Linked DNA regions of Homo sapiens. The protein of the gene in region 1 interacts with the protein of each later gene in a pairwise test. Each region holds a gene or a part of one and is shown on either strand. Other genes may lie near its edges. The genes, in order: DYNC1I1 and ANXA7.

The links.
Region 2: the proteins of DYNC1I1 (region 1) and ANXA7 interact in a two-hybrid assay, tested with the Homo sapiens proteins (one large-scale study listed by BioGRID and IntAct).

The regions. Positions count from the first base shown.
Region 1 is NC_000007.14:95,775,435-95,779,254, forward strand, and holds part of DYNC1I1 (cytoplasmic dynein 1 intermediate chain 1), read left to right. Parts: intron 1-3,820. UniProt on the Homo sapiens protein: Acts as one of several non-catalytic accessory components of the cytoplasmic dynein 1 complex that are thought to be involved in linking dynein to cargos and to adapter proteins that regulate dynein function.
Region 2 is NC_000010.11:73,379,531-73,383,350, reverse strand, and holds part of ANXA7 (annexin A7), read left to right. Parts: intron 1-5; coding exon 6-176; intron 177-3,149; coding exon 3,150-3,320; intron 3,321-3,396; coding exon 3,397-3,472; intron 3,473-3,820. UniProt on the Homo sapiens protein: Calcium/phospholipid-binding protein which promotes membrane fusion and is involved in exocytosis.

The DNA.
Region 1 (3,820 bases):
ATGAGATCTCTCCAAAGACTCTAAAACTAGGACCCATCCATTTTGGCTATTGTGCTGTGTGAGAGACAAAAAAGCGAGTGTATGTCTGTATCTTTCAGGTTTGCTCTCCAATTTCAGTGTGATCCATTGTTATTTTCTTAAAGCCACAAGTATAGCCGCACTTTTTGCCAGTTGATTGGTAACTGTGAATAATATATGCACACTCAAAGTAGACCCATGGCCCCTTAAAATAAATTATGGCATTGTTTTTGTCTCCTTAATGAAAGTAGCTGTTATACTTTGTGGATCTCAAATGCTGTGTAAATAGTTGCTACCTTAATCAGGGATCTCTTTTACTAGAAATCTTTGTGGCTTCTGCATCCCCTAGAGCATGTGAGAACATATATTCTCCTGGGAACTGTGCTGGAACTAGGAACTTCTAGAGTTGACTTTTTTGTTTTGAGAGTTAACTCAAATTAATTCAACTCTCATTTTTCTTCTTTGCAATGTATAAACCCTTGACGAGGTCCATGTAAAAGTTATTCCTCTTGACTGGGCACAGTAGCTTACACCTGTAATCTCAGCACTTTGGGAAGCCAAGGCAGACCAATCACTTGAGGCCAGGAGTTAGAGACCAGGCTGGAGGCTCGTGCCTGTAATCCCAGGCTACTCGGGAGGCTGAGACAGGACAATCACTTGAGCCCAGGAGGCAGAGGTTGCAGTGAGACGAGATTGCACCACTGCAGTCCAGCCTGGGCGACAGAGCAAGGCCCTGTCTTAAAAAAGAAAAAAATTATTCCTCTTGACAGAGACTTTTCATCAATATCCTGGACTTGTGTTCCTTGATTCCTCTCTGAGTGAGGCCTGGCCCCAGAATCTCAGAGTGAAGTTTCCATCGTAACATAGATACCTCTGCCTAGGTGCTAATCCTCATGAGCTCACATATTCATAAAACATCCTTGATTCTTTGTTGGAGGAACCTTCTTAAACAAAAACCCATAGATACTGTAAAAGGGAGGCATACGAATGGTTTTCAGATGGTCATTGAACCCACTAAAATTGAGGCAAATTTTCATGCATTTGTGCATAAATGTAGTTTTCTAGGGAAAAAATGGGGATATTGCTAACTAAAAATACAGGAAGAATCACTGGTTTACATATGCTGTTTAAAAAAGGGGAGAGGAGCAGAGGTCACTCTGCTGAAATGTATCGAAGACAAAGCCAAGCTATCCTACCAGTGGCAGCCAAAAATAAAATGTTCTTGGCTATCAGGACATTTTTGTGGCATTTCACCAGGAGTCCAGGTGGCAGGTATAGCAAACATCAACTGACACTGAGTCAGGCCTGCAACTGAGTCAGGCCTCCAGGCGTGGCAGGCAGTCCTAGCTTGGCTTGTCATTCATTGAGAATCTCCCCTGTGCATAATCAGTGCTTTATAGATGTGTTAGTTCATTGAATCATCCCAACATCCCTGTAAGGTGGACATTTTTCTCTTTCTTTGACAAACAAGGAGATGCTTGGAGGGATTAAGTCACTTGGTCAAGGCCATATGGAGCCAGATAGTGGAAGGGCTGGATTTGAAATGCAGGTGGGCCTGATTCCAAAGTCTGTTTCTTCTCTTCCTACCATAGCTCATAGTTTCTCTGCCTGTGTGGGACACCAAAAAAAGTATTGTTTAGTGTAGCTTTTTATTGTGGCAGGACTAAGAGTCCCTCAAGAAATATGTTCACACACTGATAGGAAAAGCCTAAAATATTATCAAAGGAACAACAACAAGTTGTATGTCTCCCAGAGTGGCAGAAGAAAAGCAAGCCCTGCTTTAACTTAAGGTGAGTTGAAACTCCACACTTTTGCTTCCCCCATCGCCAGGTGTCTTGCCGAGTACCAAATGCACAGCAGCCCCCACCTAACACAGCCTGAAAACTATCTTGCAGGGGTAACTGTAAATCAAAACTTTATTCACTGCAAAGATGAATTTACTTTAAGGCTGTTCTGTCCTCTGAGGCTTCCCTGATACAGCAGCTGTGTCATGATCCGGAACACTGACTTGCTTCTAAATCCTGGGAGGGGCACTACTTACCAGATGACTTACGTGCTCTTTAGTTTTCAGTTCATACTGGTCTTGAAATCCTCTTTAGCAGCTGTTCTTGCTTCCAAATTATTATTTAAGCGCTAACAGTTTTCCGCTTACCTATATTCTTGCTATGATCGCATAGAACAACCCACTGTTTCATTTTGGGGGTTCAGAACAGCTAATGCCATCAATGTGGCAAACACACAAAGCAGAAATTTCGGTCAGAGTTGAGGGTATTCATAATAAAAATAATGAATCTCAAGCACTATAGAGGACGATTGTACTTGATCAACAGACCTGCCTGGTAACCGTTCCAGTGTGCTTCATTATGCTTTAACTCAGTGCTCTTCCAACATTTTTTTTTCTCTTTTATAATCCCTCAAGAATTTTTTAAAAATTCTGCAGCTCCATCACCTCCACACATTTAAGGTTACATCTAATGCTTTTCATCATAAATTTATAGAATCACAATTAATGTGATTTTCAGAATGTTGTAAACTTTGACAGTTAAAAATAAAACCGTGACATCATTCTTTGAATCCAATTAAAATCTAAATACCAACTTCAATTTAAAATGTATGTGAAGAAGCTCTTTTCACAAAGGGATGTTTTTATATCTTGCAGTTAAGCACCACAGTAAAATTTGGGATTTCTTGGGGTTTTGTTTGTTTGTTTAGTTTATATTTGTCTTTAACCTTATATGGCAGAAGGCATTTTGTGAAAATGGAGATGGAAAAAGGGGCCCCGAATAATTCTACAACCACAGGCACATTCTCCGGTAGATAGTTTTAGGAAAACATACAGGCAAAAGCTGCGGATCTGGAAATTAATGCCATTAACTTTTCCCTTGCCTGCAGGCTCTTTAGAAAGCCACTGTGGAGGCCAGGGGTATGCAAATGCCAGTTTGAAGATTGCACATTTATCTAGCACAGGTGCTGTGTGTTATGGGTCAGTGTGGCACAGCTACTGGCAGTCAGGCCCATTGCCTTTTGTGTATGGGACTCAAATTAGAGGTGAGTAGGGCCAGAAGGAGCTGCACAGAGGCTGGTCCCATTTTCTGCTCTCAAGTAGTGGTGACTGGGAATAGCTGTCTTTTATCTTTCTTCTATTTAATGATTTTCAGTACAAGATGGGCTAATTCCAGTGCTTTCTTTTCTTTTTAGTTTTATTTATTTATTTATTTATTTATTTACAAACAGGGTCTTACTCTGTTGCTTAGGCTGGAGAGCAGTGGCATGATCATAACTCACTGCAACTCCAACTCCTGGGCTCAAGCAGTTCTCCCAACTCATCCTTCCAAGTAACTGGGACTACAGGCATGTCCCACCACACCAGCTGGTTAAAAAATTTTTTTTTTCATAGGGATGGAGTCTTGCTGTGTTGCCCAGGCTGGTCTTGAACTTGTGGCTTCCAGCAGTCCTTCTGCCTCAGCCTCCTAAGTGTTGGGATTACAGGTGTGAGCCATTGCACCTGACCCCAGCAAGTTTTTAGATCAGTTGTTCTTAGCCAGGAGCAATTGTCTTCTCCAGGGGACATTTGACAATGTCTGGAGACATTTTTTATTATCTCAATTGGGGAAAAGGGCTGGCATCTAGTGGGTAGAGGTTGGGACTGCTGCTGAACATGCCACAAAGCACAAGACAGCTTCCACAACAAAGAATTATCTGACCCAAAATGTCAATGATGCCGAAATTATGAAACTCTGCTTTAGAAGTTCTAGTTTTCTCATTGAAATCTTCCCTGTTTAAATAATTTAAGTCAATTTTT
Region 2 (3,820 bases), on another chromosome or scaffold:
TGTAGGGAGCAGGAACTCAGGAACGTGTATTGATTGAGATTTTGTGCACAAGAACAAATCAGGAAATCCGAGAAATTGTCAGATGTTATCAGTCAGAATTTGGACGAGACCTTGAAAAGGACATTAGGTCAGATACATCAGGACATTTTGAACGTTTACTTGTGTCCATGTGCCAGGTGAGTATAGTATGAATGCTTGTGCGTTGATAGAGGGAACATACTTTAAAAGCCTTTTGCCAGTGAGCATTCTTTATTCCTTTTAATATTTAGCCACCTTGCAATATTGCCATCTTTAAGAGGGACAACACAGAAACCAGTGTACAGATTTCTTTGTAGTTACTATTGAGATTTATTCCTGTAAATCTGGCTTTTGTAAGGAATTAGAGATTTAACCTCTAAGGTTGTATGGAATCAGAAACCAATTCGAGGCTCTGTGGCTGGGATGGGGATGAAACTGTACATTTGAGCTTATCACTATCCTGCCCATTATGCCCCACCATCAAGTGAAGATGTGCAGGACTGCCATAGAGGTGCTACAGGAAGTGAGGACTATGTGAGGAGACCCAGAAATGCAGAAAAATGTTTTAGGGTTCCCAGTAATAACTGTGATTAGCACCTTCTTTATTTTGATTCCCCAGGTGTGCTGGAGAATTGACAGAAAATACTCCAAATAGGGTATTTGGAATGGCATTAGAAACACACTTAGGGCCAGACATTGTGCCTCACACCTGTAATTCCAGCACTTTTGGAGGCCAAGGCAGGAGGATTGCTTGAGGCCAGGAGTTTGAAGCCAGCTTGGGTACCATAGCAAGAAACCATCTCTATAAAAAATATTTTTAAAAATTAGCCGAACATGGTGGTATGTGCCTGTAGTGCCAGCTATTCAGGAAGTTCAGTGGGAGGATCACTTGAGCCCAGGAGATTGAGGCTGCAGTGAACTGTGATCGCACCACTGCATTCCAGCCTGGGCAATAGAGTGAGATCCTGTCCTTAAAAAAAAGAAAAGAAAAAAAGAAAAGAAGCACACTTAGATGATGAAGGTGTATTTGAAAGAGATTATGTAAATGACTAGCATGCTGATTCAATATCAAGAGTTATTGCCTATTGTGCTAGTGCACAAGATTGGACCATCTGGAGGGATCTAAAGGAGAGGAGGGGCTCTTAAGAGCCAAGGGAGGGGCTGGGTGTGGTGGTTCATGTCTGTAATCCCAGTACTTTGGGAGGCTGAGGCGGGTGGATCACCTGAGGTCAGGAGTTTGAGACCAGCCTGACCAACATGGTGAAACTCCATCTCTACTAAATACAAAAAATTAGCCAGGAGTGGTGGCACCTGTAATCCCAGCTACCTGGGAGGCTGAGGCAGCAGAATCGCTTGAACCCGGGAGGCAGAGGTTGCAGTGAGCTGAGATTGTGCCATTGCACTCCAGCCTGGGTAACAAGAGCAAAACTCCATCTAAAAAAAAAAAAAGGGAGGTAGCTGTGGAAAGGATAGTGGATATGGAAATGAGAAAGCAAAGTAAATGGGTTGAAGGAAATTGAATTTACCTAAATCAGAGTAACAGGAGGGCAGTAGGTTAGGATTTAAAAGAAACAAGAAGGAAAACAGACAATGCTAAAAAATGGCTATTAAGATTTTACATGAGGTGCTGAGTCTCTCTTTATGCAGAGTTCAAGGCCCAGCCCTACCTTTTCCAGGGCATGAGTAGAGGAGTAACTTCCTGAGAAAGTGTGTGTGAATCCAAAGGCAATAATCTGGGAAATTTTTTGTGAGTACCTTTTCCTGTGTTATATTCAGTCGCCCATGTAGAATGTGCCTCTACGTATTCCTTGTGCCAGTTGCTCAGAAGACAGTTCTTCAGCTTCAAGGAGGATTTTTCCATCTTATTCCAAAGATGGTCCCTGAGACTCTAAAAGGCAGCCTTTTCTTGTTTGGGTTTGTCTTTCTGTTTTTGAGAGAAACCAACTGCTCATTAAGCTTAAACTCTTCCTTCCTCCTTCCTTTCTTCCTATTCCAGGGAAGAGTGTGGTATACAAATAGGCACAGTCTAACAGAACATGAGTTATTTGTAGCTGCTTCTGTAAAGCTTATGTGTCATTTTTATGCGTGTATTTATGGTAAATACTTACATATTAAGATTATAATTCGATGGCTGAGTGTGGTGGTGTGAGCTTATAGTCCCAGCTACTCTGGAGGCTGAGGTAGGAGGATCACTTGAACCCAGGAGTTTGAGGCTATGATCATGTCTGCAAATAGCCATTGCACCCCAGCCTGGGCAACATAGTGAAATCGTGTCTCTTAAAAAAAAATATTATACTCAGATGAAGAAAAGAAAGTTTATGAAGCCTCCATATTATATCCTCCCTCCCTCCTGCCCTAGAGTTAAATTTCTTGAGGGCAGAGACCCTGTCTCTCCTGTGTCCCTACCGCTTAACACAGTGCCTGACACAAAGAAAGTGCTTAATGTCTCTTAGTCGCATGAATGAATAAAAAGTAGAACTCAGTACAGTGCATATTGATCTTAAATTCCAGCTAAGAGAGCTGTTTCTTCATTTGAGTGGTAGTTAATATCTCCTAGTAGAGATATTTTTGTTTAAACATTTTGGGTTTAATTTAGCTCCCAAAAGCCCTCATTTTTAACATAACCTCATTAAACCGTGATCTTATATTATAAAATCCAGTTGACAGTATAATAAATTACTAGTTATATTTCCATGCATAGAAATGAAGCATATGCATGACAGACATTATGGATTAATCTTTAATAAATTATCTCTTTAGGCCAGGCCCAGTGGCTTACATCTATAATCCCAGCACTTTAGGAGGCTAAGGCAGGAGGATCACTTAAGCCCAGGAGTTAGAGACCAGCACCTGGGCAACATAGTGAGACATGCTGTCTCTACAAAAAATAAAAAAATTAACCAGGCATGGTCGTTTGTGCCTGTAGTCCCAGCTATCTGGGAGGCTGAGGTGGAAGGATCACTTGAGCCTAGGAGGTTGATACTGCACTCCAGCCTGAGTGACAGAGCAAGACCCTATCTCAAAAAAAAAAGAAATAGTCTCTTTAAATCCAAAAGTGAACTAGATTGGAAAAAAAAAATTTAGTAGAACTATTATTTATTTCTTCCAATTCCTGCCTTTCTCTTTTGCAGGGAAATCGTGATGAGAACCAGAGTATAAACCACCAAATGGCTCAGGAAGATGCTCAGCGTCTCTATCAAGCTGGTGAGGGGAGACTAGGGACCGATGAATCTTGCTTTAACATGATCCTTGCCACAAGAAGCTTTCCTCAGCTGAGAGCTACCATGGAGGCTTATTCTAGGGTATGAGCTTTTCTTTTGAAGATTTGGCTTCTGCTGTAAGATACAAAAATATTTAACCCTTTAATTTTGTTTGCAGATGGCTAATCGAGACTTGTTAAGCAGTGTGAGCCGTGAGTTTTCCGGATATGTAGAAAGTGGTTTGAAGACCATCTGTAAGATATTTTTGTGCTTTGCTTTATTTTCTTTTTAAATGAGTGGGAGCTTTGAATAGTTGTTCCCATTAAATGTTGATAATATAGTCCACGTGGAATCTGCTTAGGCAGTAGCTGATCTAATCCTTTGGGGTTTGTTTTTTGTTGTTTGTTTTCTTTATTGGATAAGCCCCCAGAAACAGTCCTGTGTTTTTACATACAATTTCCTATGAATGGTAGTTCTGTGATCAAACAGGGCTGTTTGGGGATTATTTGGCCTTCATCTGTAGGCCTGTCTTGATAACTGTGCCAGAATACCTGATAGTTGTAGCACTTCCTTTAAAGAGAAAGGGAAAGTCCTGAGGAACT